Regions from separate parts of the Homo sapiens genome. Here region 2 is linked to region 1. Evidence: fine-mapped QTL for protein levels in blood plasma. Region 1 holds a variant in brackets. A gene starts in the other region. All regions are shown on their forward strands.

Evidence for each region. A credible set is the group of variants that fine-mapping cannot tell apart. PIP is the chance, under the fine-mapping model, that this variant and not a neighbour inherited with it causes the effect. The UK Biobank Pharma Proteomics Project read protein levels with antibody pairs (Olink). The fine-mapping took linkage between variants from a reference panel, not from the people measured, so its PIPs are less certain.
Region 2: it holds the start of CTRL, and the variant in region 1 is the best candidate, but not a certain one, in a credible set for the plasma level of the CTRL protein (UK Biobank, PIP 0.68).

What each region holds. Positions count from the first base shown.
Region 1 is chr17:71,207,671-71,218,248 of GRCh38, forward strand. No RefSeq gene overlaps it. Among named protein-coding and RNA genes, the nearest start is that of CASC17, 11 kb to the left of the region's middle. The variant C/T (reference allele first, on the strand shown) is at 5,441.
Region 2 is chr16:67,930,502-67,935,755 of GRCh38, forward strand. CTRL (chymotrypsin like) reads right to left here and starts at 1,361. Exons shown (of 7, transcript NM_001907.3): 1 at 1,300-1,361; 2 at 597-700; 3 at 419-498; 4 at 225-306; 5 at 1-87. The coding sequence starts at 1,351. PSMB10 (proteasome 20S subunit beta 10) reads right to left here. Exons shown (of 8, transcript NM_002801.4): 5 at 5,081-5,196; 6 at 4,919-4,977; 7 at 4,296-4,447; 8 at 4,005-4,170. The coding sequence ends at 4,059. RefSeq lists enhancers at 1-335, 336-852, 4,919-5,118.

The DNA of each region.
Region 1 (10,578 bases):
ATCCTGTGGACGTGCTTGAGGAAAGAAACTCACATTTTCTCTTAAACCTTCAAGATACTTCATCTGGGCCTTAAGGGAAAACCATAAGGTCAAATAATTCTAATTGTTACAAAGCAATATCCAGTAGCAGAGTACCAAATATTGCAAGAGTTTATCGACACCTGAAAGGCAATTCTGGATATTTTTAGGTAGATTTTATGGAAGTGGACAGGACTGCGGAGGAGACCTTGTATTAGAAGCCAACCATCATCGCCACAATGACAATATCATACAAATGCTTTATTTAAGCCCCTTCATCTAACACTTTACATCTACTTTGTTTCTAGATGATTTTAAACATTGCTCATGTCTTAATATAATTTGTTCCAGAGACTTTTCAGGAGTTTAATAAGTGGCTAACTTAAAGTAACATCAGAGGCTGTCTCTATGAAGCTAATGGTTCTATGACATAGTCATCACTGAGTTCCCAGGTTGTCCATACCAAAATAGAGTTTATGATGTGTATGCCCCTGCCCAAACATGCTTTATATGCCAGGGGGTGTTGAAATGATGTCCTGCTGGCACAGGTTCTGTTTACCACATTGCCTTGACTTCATGAGTTGGGGCACATTCTATTTGGGTTGCGCAAGCCAAGATCATCATTGCATAAAGCAGGAACCCACAAATTGCTATTTCTTAGGTGACCCGATAGTGTCTGTTCACAGCAAAGGCTGAATGAGAATTACCCCTGGTTTCTTTGGGACGTGGCAAAGCAAACTTACTCAGAGTTCCTTGGTTGAATCCAAAAAAGAAGTCATCTACTAAGATGAGTCACTGTTGAGCAAAAACCTTGTCTGCTACTCTCTTTAAAGGTTATGTGCTCTTCTAAAATTACATATTTTGATTGATATATTAATGTGGCTATATTGTGGTTGCCTAGAGACAACTTGGAACCCAGTGAGTTGGATGATGATGTTCTTTGTCACTGATTACATCATCTCAGACTTCATGCTCCATTCATACCTTAGAGGGACAGAAATATACTTGCCCTTTTCACTGACGAAAGAAGAGATATTTTTAGATTTTGCCTTCCTCATTTCTATTAGGCAATTTTTTTAAATTTATACTTTAAGTTCTGGGATACATATGCAGAATGTGTAGGTTTGTTACATAGGTATACACGTGCCATGGTGGTTTGCTGCACCCATCAACCCGTCATCTACATTACGTATTTCTCCTAATGCTATCCCTCGTCTACACCCTCACCGCACAACAAGCCCCAGTGTGTGATGTTCCCCTCCCTGTGTCCATGTGTTCTCATTGTTCAACTCCCACTTATCAGTGAGAACATGCAGTGTTTGGTTTTCTGTTCCTGTGTTAGTTTGCTGAGAATGATGGTTTCCAGCTTCATCCATGTTCCTGCAAAGGACATGAACTCATCCTTTTTAATGGCTGCATAGTATTCCATGGTATATATGTGCCACATTTTCTTTATTCATTTGGGATAAGGTCTATCATTGATGGGCATTTGGGGAATGGGAGGGCATTTTATTCATTTGATAAATATCCTGTCATGTAGTTTAATATATTTGTAAATCTTTTGGGTTGAGTATTATCACTTTAAAGAGACTAAAGAGACAGAAATGACAGTAAACGAAGAAAGAAAAACTTTGCAAATTATTTTCTTTTGTCTTATTTATTAACTCAGAGCAAAATGTATAAACACCTATCATTATGGTTGTTAATTATGTTCCCCCAGCTTTATAATTGTGATCATCTGAGATACCATGATAGACATCCTAAGTCTCTTGACAAGATCAATTGAAAAAAAAGATAGGTCATCATTGCATATGCAGTTGCCCAAAGAGCCAAGATCTCAAGAAATTTTGTTTTTCACAAACGCAGATGTACAAAAAGGACATCTCTTCATTTATCTAGCATGTGGCAATGTTTTTACATACGTGCACAATGCTTATACACAAAGTCAGTGTTCTCATACTGTACTTTTATGGAGTCAAATTTGCCAAAAACAGAATAAATGATTTAGAACTCTCAAGAGTCTTTACAAAATATATACCAGTATTGGAAATGGTGTGAAGATGAAATACATAGCATAAAAGTTATACAAAATAATGCTAACAACTTAAAATAGCGGGGATAACAGGAAAAAAAACAAAACAAAAAACCCTAAAACTGGCTAAAAATAAAATCTGACATATGTAAATGCATATCACAGGGATAGATTAGGAACAATTTCATGAAGGTAGTCCCTAAGGGCTGGCCAGCCTTGATAATCATTAACTATGATTAATAAGTCTTGCATTGCAATGAATAGCTGCTTTTTATCTTTGAGGGCATGGCTTTCCTGGGAGAATATATTCACATTCATTTTCTACATGACGCTATTCTTTATGAAATTCTTCTACGATTCAATATATACCAACATGAGCATTCCCTATTAAATTTTCCTGTCTTCTGCGTCATGGTTCTATGTAGTTTGGGGTATACAGGAATCCATTTCCCATGTACTTATATAGAGACCCCAAATTCGGCAGAAACAGTACAAGTAATCAAACAGCAAAAATTGTGTTAAAACCTTTTTATCCTACTGTGGACATAATTATTTTCTAACCAGTCAGTGACTTTGCTGACTTCTTCAGGCAAATGTGGCTTTAATTCAATAAAAGCTCCTGAATTTTTATCAACTGAAAGGGATGTCAGTGTAGACAAGTGACACATTTTTAAGCTGATATTTTTGTCATTGCCATTGTGGCCAATTTACTCATCTGAATTTTCCACCAAATGCAATTTACTCATCTGAATTTTCCACCAAATGCAATAAGAAAGCAACAGTTCTGCCTACTATGATGCCACCAATATGAAGCCAGTATCCTACACACAGTTACAACCTCAAGGAAACCCTTTCTTATAATTTGACTTTCAGGATTTTGATATTTGAGATTTTAACAATTTGAGATTCTGATTCTTGAGATTTTAGATATTAGGGAATTTAGATGTTAGAGATTTTAATCTTTTGGAATTGCAACATTTGGAATTATGGCATTTGGGACTGTGTCTTTCAGAATTATGGTTGGCAGTGGTGCTCTCCTATAGCTACAAGGATCAGAGAAACTCTTCTCTTTGCAGAAGAGTTTTTTAATGATCCTCAAAAGATCAAAACAATTAAACATTTGGAGATAAGAAGGCCACTGGCTGATTATTTGACTTATGAAGACTAATATGTTGTAAAGTGAATCAGAACAGGTACCTGAGAGTGACATAAATATTTAGATGACAAAGAATCTTAACTAATGTGGTGGCACTATAAATATAAAGCCATGCATAAGTGTACGGAGAAATTCAAGGGGGATATCACTGAGATTTGATCTGACTTTTGAGGCTGAGTGTGTGGTAGAAGAGTAGCACTAAGAACAGAAAATGAAATATCAAGAAAATAAATCACTGTGATCTGAAGATAGAAAGGAAATACTGAGCTCAGTTTTAGATGTTTATCCTAGTTAACTGTGATGCCTTTCAGGTGGTGATGGGTCATCCAGGTAAATATGTCTATCAGATATTTGTATCTGTGGTACATAAATTTGGGATAAGTGTCAGGATTTGAGAATTTGAGGAAGTAAAATTTGAAGATGTGAGGCCAGAAGATATTTTTCTAGTCTTGAATTTAACAATATCTATATAATAACACAATTCAATATTTTTTGTTCATGTATCTCTGGATCCAAAGGAATAAAAGAGATTTCCACTTCTGAGATGGAGTGAATGTACTTTTTCCTTTTCCTTCTAAGCTCAATGAAAAATCCTGCACATTATGTATAATGCAAGCATGAGAAGACTCTGAAAGGTAGAGAGAAAAAGGCAGACTGGCTATGAAACTTAGGACCCAAGAAACCAGAAAGAAGTGAGTTCCCTCACTTTTCTTTGTGTCTCATATGTCCCAGACTTGGGGCTGAAGAAGCTAGCAATCCAGAAATGCCAATGAATACAGGCAAAAGGGGCCAAAATAAAAGCCCACTCTCTCTAGCCAAAAGTCCAGGAAAGGGGCAACCTACCCAGAAAACAAAAAAACAAACAACAACAAACAAAAACAAAAACAAAACAAACACACTTTTAGACAATAGATATTATACTCCAGTAAAAACTCACAGAAAATAATATGCCTCTGCCCCTCGTCTCACAAGCAAAGACAGGTGGGAAGCCTAAACTTCAACCTGGATGTAATCACGGAGCCCAGATCTTTTTCTGGGGTGATGTCAAAGAAGGTTGAGTAGGAGACCAAGAGTTTCATCTCCATCAGGCAGTCATAAGTCTTGCCTTCCCCTTGGTGTCAGGGGAGAACACATGGAGAGCCTGGACTTTTACTCTGAAAGAATAGTAATGAAAGGTGCTCCTCCCACTCCCCACTGAGGAGGTCAAAAGAAGGCCTAATAAAGACTCAAGATTTTCATCATTACCTGGCAAAAATTGGTCCATCCTCTACCCTGTGGTATCAGTGGAGGTCATGAATGAAGAAATAGCAAGGCACTCCTGTCCCTCCCAATGAGAGAGGGACAAGATAGGAATTACATCCAGCCTTTCCTCACTAATCATACAAGTAAGGAGAGAGTGGAGTTAGATAAAGTGTTGAGAGAAAGAAGCTACCAACTTAGAATTAGGTACTCTATAGAATTTTTTTTTAAGTGAAGGAGATAGAAAGGCTTTCTGAGATGAACAAAATTGAGAGAATTTGTTGCCAGTAGACCTGCTTTGCAAGAAATTTTACAATAAGTTATTTAGAGAAAGAAGATTATGTAGGATAGAAACAGATCTATACAAAGAAAAGAACACCAAAGAAAAAATAAGCAAATAAAATTGTTTTTTCTTATTCTTAACTGATCTAACAAATATTTTGTTCAAAATAATAATAGCAATAATATATTCAATTACAGATGCTTATGTATCTATGCATATATGTATAGATCTATTTATCTATTCATAAACATATATGTATTTATATGAATGACATCAGTTATACAAGGGACAAGAGGGAGTAATTACAATTTTTTGTTATTATAAGATATTCACACTATACATGAAGCAGTAGTTGTAAATGTATATTGCAAACTTTAGGGCACCCACTAAACAAAGGTAAAAAGAAAAAAAAAAAGAATAACTGACATGCTAAGGAAAGAGTGAAAATGGAGTCATATTAAAATGTTAAGTTCAAACCACGAAATGCAGAAAAAGAGTAAAAGACATAAATGGGAACAAAGAAGAAGGGCGACAATTAGAAAACAGTAACAAATATGGTAGCTGTCAATCCAACTATATTAGCAATCACTTTCAATGTCAATGGTTTAAATATATCAATTATAAGAAGGAGATTTTCAAAGTGGATCAAAAAACAAGATCCAGGACAGATATAATTAAACTTCTGAAAACCAAAGGTGCAGAAAAAAAATCA[C/T]AAGAGCAATAAGAGAGAAATTATATCTTACCCATAGAAGAAAACATGTGAAAGGACAGTGGATTTCTCATCAGAAACCATGGAGGCCAGAAGCAAGTAGCACACCATTTTTCAAGTAAAGTAAAGAGCTATTAACCCAGAGTCTTATGCCCAGAAAAAAACATCCTCTGGGAATGAAGGGGAAATCTACACATTCTCAGATGAAAAAAGATGAAGAGAACTTGTCACCAGCAGACCTGCTCTAAAATAATGGGTCAAGAGAGTTCATTAAGCAAAACAACAACAACAAAATACAAGTAAGAATCTTAGGACATGAGTAAAAAAGAAACAACATAATTAAAAAATGGGTAAATATTATACACTTTCCTTTTCTTTTTATGATATATAAATTATCTGACTGTTGAAGTAAAATTTATAACGTTGTCTCATGTAGTTCTAAATATATAGAGAGGAAATATTTAGGATGATTATAAGCAGAACAGGATAAAACAATTTAAAGGGAGATAGGATTTCTACTCCTCACTTGAACTGGTAAAATCACAACCAGTAAACTGTGATAAGTTACATACATATAATTCAATATCTAGAGGAATCTCTAAAGAGTTTCCACAAAGAAATGTACTCAAACCCCCTACAAATGAATGAAAAATGAATTTTTAAAAATATTCAAGAAAACCACAAGAGGCCAGAAATAAGAAAACTACAAAACAAAAAACAGAGAGACCAAATAGATAAAAAAACATTAAATGACAGAATGAAGCTCTAACATATTAATAATTACTTTAAATGCAAATGATCTAAATATACTGCTGTGGTTTAGTGTGTCATCTAAAGTTCATGTTTGGAAACTTAATCCATAATGTAACAGTGTTGGGAGTTGGATCTTAAAGAGGTGATTAGGTTATGAAGGCTCTACCCTCAGGAATAGATTAATGTGATTATCACAGGAATGGGTAAGTTATCGCAAGATAACTTCTGCTATGGGATGACCCAATATGAAGGCTTTCATCAGATGCTCATGCCATGCTCTTGGACTTTCCAGCCTCCAGAACCATGAACCAAATAAACCTCTATTGTTTCTAAATTACCCAGTCTTGAGTACCCTGTTATAATATCACAAAATGGACTAAGACATAACCAATCAAAAGATGAAAATTGGCAGATTAGATTAATAAAAATGACACAATCATTTACTGTCTACAAAAAAAAATCTAAATCTAAGACTACGGGTAAGTTAATAGTAAAAAAAAGAAAAATATATATTAAGAAAATATTAATGGAAACAAAGGACTGCTATGTTGATATCAGATAAAGAAATAAATCCAAGATAGAAAGGGAACTGTATAATGATAGGAGGTTCAATAAACCAATAAAACATAGCAATCCTAAATGTATATGCATCAGACAACAGAGCTGCAAAATATGTGAATCTAAAACTGAAAAAATTAAAATGGAAAAACAGACCAATTTACACTTTAATTGAAAATATTAACACCCCTCTCAACAACTGATACTCCAACTAAAGAGAAATCAGCAAGGAAATATAAAGACACCATCAAGCAACAGTGTCTAATCAATACTTATTAAAAAAACTCCACCAACAGCTGCAAAATATACGTTATTGCAAACTGAACAATACATTTCTAAGGAATCTAAATGTGAAGAAGGAAATCTCAAAGGAAAAATACACAATGAACTGAATGAAAATGAAAATACAAGTGATCCATGACTTAATAATGGTTCAACTTATCATATTTCAACATTACACTGGTGTGAAAGTGATACACAAACACAAGAATTTTTTTTTTTTTTTAGATAGAGTCTTGCTCTGTCACCCAGGCTGGAGCGCAGTGGTGTAGTCTCAGCTTACTGCAATCTCCACCTCTCAGGTTCAAGCTATTCTCCTGCCTCAACCTCCTGAGTAGCTGGGATTAAAGGCACTCACTACCACGCCTGGCTAATTTTTTTATTTTTAGTAGAGACAGGGTTTCACCATGTTGGCCAGGCTGGTTGCGAACTCCTGACCTCAAGATATCTACCCACCTTGGCCTCCCAAAGTGCTGGGATTACAAGCATGAGCCACCATGTCTGGCCAAACACAAGGTTTTCAACTTCAAGCACCAGTGATTCATTGAGTAAAGATTCTCTCGGCTGCATTTTTGATTTGCAAGATGAAAAGACAAAAGTTACTAATCTGAAAAATGAGTTAGGAGATATCACTACAAACCCTGCAGACATTATAAACATAATGAGAGGAAACTATGAACAATTGTATGCATTTGATGACTTAGATGAAATAGGTTAATGCCTCAAAAAACACAAATTACAATAAACACCAACTATGACAATTCACCAGTATGAAAAAGATAATTCTGATATTTTGCTAGCTCCATAACTCTTAAAGAAAATGGATTTATGATTTTTAAATTCTCAAGAAAAAAAATAAAGAAATCTCCAGGCCCAAATGGTTTTACTTGTCAATTCTACCAAACTTTTAAAAGAAGAATTAATACCAATTATACACAGTCTATTCAGTAAAGAAGAGGAGGAAACCTTTCTCAATTGCTTTAATGAGGTTAGGATTATCTTGACACCAACATAGATGAAGACAACCGTGAAGAAGGAGAGAGAAAGGAAAAGAAAACTAAGCACCAACACCTGTCATGAATATATGCAAAAATCCTTAAAAAAATTAACAAGTAGAAGTCAGCAATATATAAAAGGAATTGTACACCATCACCAAATATGGCATATACCAGGTATGTGAGGCTGGTTCAATATTTGAAAACCAGTCACTGTAATACACCCTATTAACAAACTAAGGATGAAAAATGTACATGATCATAACAATCAATGGAGAAAAAGCATTTGACAAAACTCAATACTAATTCATAACCCTCAGAAAAAAAGGATACAGAAAAATTTTTTCAAATTGATAAGATGTATCTTTAAAAAGACACAAAAAACTTCTTACAGCTAACATTATACTTAATGTTGAAAGGCTAAATGTTTCTCCCTATGGCAAGTTAAGGATATCTTTTCTCATCACCCTATTCAACATAGGCTGGATGGTCTAGCCAGTGAACAAGAAAATAAAAGACTTACAGATCTAGAAAGAAATGTTCTTATTTACAGGTGATACGATTATCCACATGGAAAAACTCAAGGAGTCTACAAAATAAAAATCCTCCTAAGAATAATAAGTTAGTTTATCAAACTTGCAGGATATAAGGTAAACTTGCAGGATATAAGGTAAACATGCACAAATTAATTGTATTTATATGACCTAGCAAAGAACACATGAGGACTTAAAAATACAATTCACCATCAGTAAAAAGTTTTTTTAAAAAAACTTTAAGAGTAAAGCTTTCGAGACATGTGCAAGATTGTATGCTGACAACCACAAAATACTGAAAGCAATCAAAGCTCTAAATAAAGGGAAAGACATAATGGATGTATAGATCGAAAGACTCAGCCATAGTAAAGATAAAAATTCTCCCCAAATTGCTATACAGACATATAAAAATCTCAGTAAGATTTTTTTATAGACATACACAAGACTGTTCTAAAATTTGTCTGAAAATGGATAAAAAATAAGGTATTTAAATTAATTTTTGAAAAAGTCAAGTAAAATGAAAGGAGCAATTTTACCCAATTTCAAGGCATTACGTAACTACAACAATCAAGATTGCATGTTACTGGTGGAAGCCTAGCCTTAGAGATAAATGGAACAGAATAGAGAACATAGAAACAGATTCACACAAATATGCTCAATTGATTTTTAACAAAGGGGCAAAAATAATTCAATGAAAGAATGATAGCATTTCAACAAATAGTAACAGAGCAATTAGAAATCCATAGATGCGGCCGGGCATGGTGGCTCATGCCTATAATCCCAGCACTTTGGGAGGCCAAGGCGGGCAGATCACAAGGTCAGGGGTTCAAGAGCAGCCTGACCAACATGGCGAAACCCCCTCTCTACTAAAAATACAAAAATTAGCCAGGTGTGGTGGCCTGTGCCTGTAATCCCAGCTACTCGGAAGGCTGAGGCAGGAGAATCACTTGAACGTGGGAGGCAGAGGTTACAGAGAGCTGAGATCACACCCCTGCACTCCAGCCTGGGTGACAGAGCGAGACTCCATCTCAAAAAGAAAGAAAGAAAGAAAGAAATCCATAGATGGACACAGAAAAATTAGCCTTAACCTAGTTGACATACCTTATACAAAAATTAACTCAAAATGGGCAATGAATTTAAATATAAAATATAAAGGTATAAAATTTTAAAAATAAAACAGAAGAAAATATATGGATCATACTAGACAAAGCGTTCTCAGAGTTGACATGAAAAGCATGATCCCAAAGAGAAAAAAATGATAAATTGTATTTTATCAAAATCAAAAACTTGGCCAGGCGTGGGGGCTCACGCCTGTAATCCCAGCACTTTGGGAGGCCGAGACGGGTGGATCAAGAGGTCAGGAGATCGAGACCATCCTGGCTAACACGGTGAAACCCCGTCTCTACTAAAAACACACAAAAAATTAGCCGGGTGTGGTGGTGGGCGCCTGTAGTCCCAGCTACTTGGGAGGCTGAGGCAGGAGAATGGCGGCGTGAACCTGGGAGGCGAAGCTTGCAGTGAGCCGAGATCGAGCCACTGCACTCCAACCTGGGTGACAGAGCAACACTCCGTCTCAAAAAAAAAAAAAAAAAAAGAGATACTCTGTAAAAGGTGAAAAGACAAACAATAGACTAGGAGGAAATATTCCTAAACCACGTCAGACAAAGGACTAGAATCTAGAATATATAAAGAACACTTAAAATGCTCAACATCATTAGTCATTAAGGAAATGTAGATTAAAACCACAATGAGACATCATCTCACACCAGTTAGAAAGGCTATTACCAACAAGGCAAAAAATGACAGGTATTGGTGAGGATGTGGAGAAAAGGGAACCCTTGTATACTATTGGTGGGAAGATAAATTAGTGCAGCTATTATGGAAAGCAATATGGTAATTCCTGAAAAAATTAAAAATATGACTATCAGATAATCCAGCAATCTTACTACTGAATATGTATCAAAGTAAATAAAATTAGTATGCCAAAGATATACCTTTACTCCCTTGTTCATTGCAGCATTAT
Region 2 (5,254 bases), not on the chromosome of region 1:
TGTTGTGTACTGGGCTGGCGAGGCGAGCTTCAGCAGCGTCACGTCATTGTTCATGGTGGTAGAGTTCCAGCTAGGGTGTGTAATGGCCTGTGGGGTCAGAAACAGTCCATGTTCTGATGGGTGCTGAGCAGGGTAGGCCAGGGCATGTCCTGAATTCCTCGTTCCCAGCACCCACCCACCTGCACTGCCCACTTTTCCTCCGTGTCTGCAGCCCAGGCACTCACCCGAGAGACGGACAGAACCTGCAAGGGCTCTGCGTTTGATGATCGGTCATACTCGCCCAGGACAACAAAATGGCGGCCAGGGCTGCAAGGGGGTGGGATTAGGCAGCTGCAGGGAGGCCAGCGCGAGAGGGGGACAGCCAGGGGAGGAGGCAGGAAGAGGCGAGGGGCGGGGCAGGTGGAATGCAGGCACTCACCTGACATTGCAGTGGGCAGCAGTGACCACCCAGGACTGGCTGATGAGAGAACCACCGCAGAAGTGGAAGCCGCTGCTGTCCTGTGGTCAGGGCTCAGAGGTCAGAGTGGGGGTGGGCTGCTGAGGCTGCCCCTAGGCATGACGTACCCAGGACCCTGCCCACCCCTCTGGTGGTGTACCTGCAGGGACACCTGCCAGGGCCAGGAGCCCAACACTGCATTCTCCCCGTTGACAATCCTCTGGCTGAAGCTCAGTGCCGGTTTGATGGCAGGAATGCCGCAGCCTGGCCATTGGGCTAATGAGGACCTGCTTCCCATGCCTCAGCCCATCTTTCCCCACCTCCTTTTGGGTGCCCCAGGCTGTGCACCCCAGAGAGGTCTGTCGAGAGGGTACAGCACTACCCCTTCCCCAACAGGGTACATGCAAGCACCTTCGGGCCCCACAGCTATCTTGGTTATCCCTATCCACCCAGTCCCCCAGCCCTGCTGTTCTCCTACATCTGTCTCCAGCCTAGTCCCCGCTGTTCCCCATCTCTACCCCTGGTCTCTCTGCCCCCTCCCGACCTGAACAGTTCATACCCTTCATGCAGCCAGAAGGTTCTTTCTAAAAGACATGGACAGGTCTTCCTGTCTCAGCTTCCTAAACCCTCCCGGGCTCCAGGGCCTGGCTCAATCTCTGGTCCTATTTGTGAGACCACCCCACCTCTTGCCCCCTCCCAGCCCTGCAGGCCTGTTCCCTGCTCCACTGCCCTGGCATATCCTGTTTCTTTTGCCCACTCTGTCCACCTTCGTCCCTTCCAGCCAGCCTAGCTCCTTCCCTGGGCTGTTGCTGGGAGCTGAGTTGCTCCCAGGGCTGAATCAGGGCTGGTCCTGGCCCACTCACCCCAGGAGGAGCCGAGGAGAACCAGGCTTAGGGTCAGGCTGAGCAGCAACATCGTGGCAGATGTGAGGTTGGGAGCTGGGTCTGGCTTTATGGGTCTTCTCGTCCTTGAGCTAAAGCTCCAGGCCTGAGGCCAGGCCAGCTGTGTAGACTCAGCCCCCTCCCACGCTCCAGGCAAGACAGGCCCTTTAGGCCAAGGTCCCCTGACCGAGACCTAGACTTATCAGACAGAGCCCAGGTGTGAGACTCACCTCTGCCACCTCCCAAAGCCTGGCCTCTAATTGGCTCCCAGAACCACCTCCCATTCCAAATGTTGAGCCCTCGGTACTGAGGACAGATGGTTAAATTAGGTCTATAGTGACAACCTGGTGGCTGGGATCACAGGAGTCACCCAGGGCTAACAAAGGCACCAGGCTTTCAGAGAAGGCCGCTCAGCGTCCAGGGTGTTCTGACTGGTGGATGGAATGCTCACTGCGGTCAACTTTGCTGTGAAGGGCCAGGGGCTGTGAGGTTCTGGCAGGCTGGGAGTCCTAACACATCATCGCAGTGGTTCCTCGTCCATTTGGAACAGGAGTCACAGGTCTGCTCAGAGATGGTGACTCTCCCACCAGCACGTGGTTGAGTTGTACACAAACTCGCATTTGTCTGGCGCTGAAGCCTCCGCTCTTAACAATGAGATGATACTTATGAAGGGCCTGGCATTTAGGAGGGCAAAGTGTGAGCTCTTGGTGCCTGGCCGACCGTGGACTGAGGCTGCAGGTGGAGAGTGACAGACATCAAATCTCTGCCACCCTCTTTAGGCCTTGGGGCTCCCATGGGCAAGCCCCTGGTGTCTGTAGCCCATTTGTTACTGAGCTGCAGACCAAGCTTGAAGGGAGAAGACACCCTGTGTGCAAAGTTCCAACAGGTGCATTGGCTGGCGGCCTTCTGGGAGTGTGAGGGCTTTAACTGATTCAAGAACAGATCAGGGCTGGGTGTGGTGGCTCACACCTGTAATCCCAAAACTTTGGGAGGCAGACGTAGGAGGCTTGATTCCAGGAGTTCGAGACCAGCCTGAGCAACATCATGAAACCCTGTCTCTACAAAAAAAATTTTTTTAAATTAAGAAATGAGCTGGGTATGATGGTACACACCTGTAGTCCCAGCAACTCAGAAGGCTGAGGCAGGAGGGATCACTTGAGCCCTTAAGTTCAAGGCTGCAGTGAGCCATGAGTGCACCACTGCATTCCGGCCTGGGCGATGGAGCTAGACCCCATCTCAAAGAAACAGCATCAGCCAAAAAATGAGATGAATTGGCTGGGCACGGTGGCTCACGCCTGTAATCCCAGCACTTTGGGAGGCCGACGCGGGCGGATCATGAGGTCAGGAGATCAAGACCATCCTGGCTAACAGGTTCAGTAGAAACCTCGTCTCTACTAAAAATACAAAAAAAAAAAAAATTAGCCGGGCGTGGTGGCGGGCACCTGTAGTCCCAGCTACTCGGGAGGCTGAGGCAGGAGAATGGCGTGAACCTGGGAGGCGGAGCTTCCAGTGAGCTGAGATTGCGCCACTGCACTCCAGAGCCTGGGTGACAGAGCGAGACTCCGTCTCAAAAAAAAAAAAAAAAAAAAGGAGCGATGAATTAATGGATAGAGGGATGAATAGATGATAAAACAAATATAACAAAATATTTGCACTCCAGAGCCTGGGTGACAGAGCGAGACGCCGTCTCAAAAAAAAAAAAAAAAAAAAAAAAAGGAGCGATGAATTAATGGATAGAGGGATGAATAGATGATAAAACAAATATAACAAAATACTGTCAGGTCTGTGGTGACCTGACAGTATAAGGGTATTCAATATACAACTCTTTCTACTTTTCTGTTACATTTACAAATGTTCATTAATAGAATGTTGGGGTGCAGGGAGCACACTCAGCGGCCTGGGGATGTGCAGCCCGGCATAGACCCTCCCTGGGCCCTGGGTAGACTCTCCCTGACATTTCTGAAGCTCCAGCGGAGTTCAGCCGTTCTCGCTGAGGACAGGATGCTCTTGCTGGCACCCAGCAGCCAGGCCTGAGACTCAGCAGGGGCCCAGCAAAGGTTTGTTGGAGAAACGTGTCATCTCTCCCCATGTGAGTCCTGTGACCCTTATTAGCCTGGAAAACTTGGAGTCACAAGCCCAGCATGTGCAGACAGAAGACGAGCTTCACGTGAGCAGTGCAGGCATGCCTCGTCATCTAAGGGGTGTCACAGGTAAAGATGTTGCGAGGTTGAGGAGTGCTTGGTGAGAACTTGCCTTGGAGTCAGGGAGCGGCTCCTCTTGTCAGCACTTTAGCCCTCAGTGGGGCCTGTGGGGGCCTGATTGAAAGGTATGAGCTTTGTCCTGGGCCACTGAGGAGCCATGGAAAGTCTCTAGGAGGGGGTAGTACATGGGGTATTTCATAATTTACAAGTCTCCAGTGGACTAGAGGGCAAGAGCAAGACAGTGGAGTGGTGGGGGAGCCTTCAAGTGTGGAGTCAGAAGGAAGGTTTGGGTGGAGACCAAGCCTGCAATGCTGGCCAGGGCTGGGGTTCTGGAGTTGTAGGTGCCTGAGGTTATGGGTGAAGGGCATCTCTTAGGCCAGACACTAGAGCTATGGTAGGTAATGGCCCCTGCAGGGACGCCTTAGCTACAGAGCCCTGCTGGCTGCCTGCCCACCCCATTCCACTCAAGAATGACACAGCCATCTGTTTAACTGTATTTTCTGGGTTTATTCCCCCTTGTTCCAAGCTCTAAGCCTCAGCTTACTCCACCTCCATAGCCTGCACAGTTTCCTCCACTAGCTCCAGGGTTAGTGGCTTCACTGTCTGGGTCAGGACAGCTGTGGTTCCAGGCACAAAGTGGTAGCGGCCAGACCTGGGAGGGAGGAGGGACAGCCTCTGAACATGGGCCTGTCATGTGGCCCATCCCCTTTTTGCAGCCCCCTATCTCCCCTGCTATAGCCCCACACATCCCTGTGGTCCCCGATCTCCAGCTCTCACCTCTTCACGGGCTCTGTGGGTGAGCTCAGTGTCCGCAGCAGCTTGGCGCCAGTCTTTGTGATCACACATGCGTCCACATTGCCCCCGGAGCCCAGGTCACCCAAGATCCCGGCGGTGACGGCTTCCACCAGCAGCCCCTGAGCAGCCTCCAGCTGCGGTGATGGGTGTGTGAGACCTAACGGGCTCTCTCTGCTGTTAACTTAGGCTACAGCCTGGGGACTTGCCTGTCCACTTACCCAATCTGGTCTTGCCCTCCAAACCCCCACTGTGTTTCTCCCTCTGAGCCTTAGCCACCTCTGAGGCAACATCACCTGCTTCCATCCCACCCCAAACAAAATCTAGGCTCCAGACGTTGATATAAGTAGGACCCTACTGGTCCTTCTCTCCGCCCTCGGCTCCTAAAGATCCTCTGTGAGCTTCGACTTCTCCCAGCCGTGCAGGCTTTGGTATTGGACGGTGTTATGTCGGGACCGCACTTCTCTGCCCTTACTCCACTCACCCTTCAGTGGTCACCTCCTCCGACAAGCCTTAGCCACCCGCACTGGGCCAGGGTCCTGTGCTCCCCCAGCTCCCGGGTGCACATCCCACCAGCGACCACAAAGTCGGGGACAGAGGCCGCTCACCGTCATGTTCGGCTGGAACCGGTCTTCTAGCACCGCCAGGGCCGCGTCCTGACCAGAGCCTGAAGGCAGGAGAAGCATCTGAAGTCAACCGCTGCGACGCCGTTTGGAGTGAGGCCAAGGTCACAGGGGCAGAGTTCGAGGAGAAGGGACAGAAGCGCTCACCCAGGGCTGTGAAGGGCAGACGGCTGTAGGAGCCATGGGGATGCACACCGTAGAGCTGCGGTCCAGTCAGGTCTACGCCGCCCACGATCAGCGATGCACCCACGTGGCCCTGGTACCTGCTCGAGGATGGGCGGGGTCGGCCACAAGCTGGGGCCTAGGCCCCACCTCTCTATG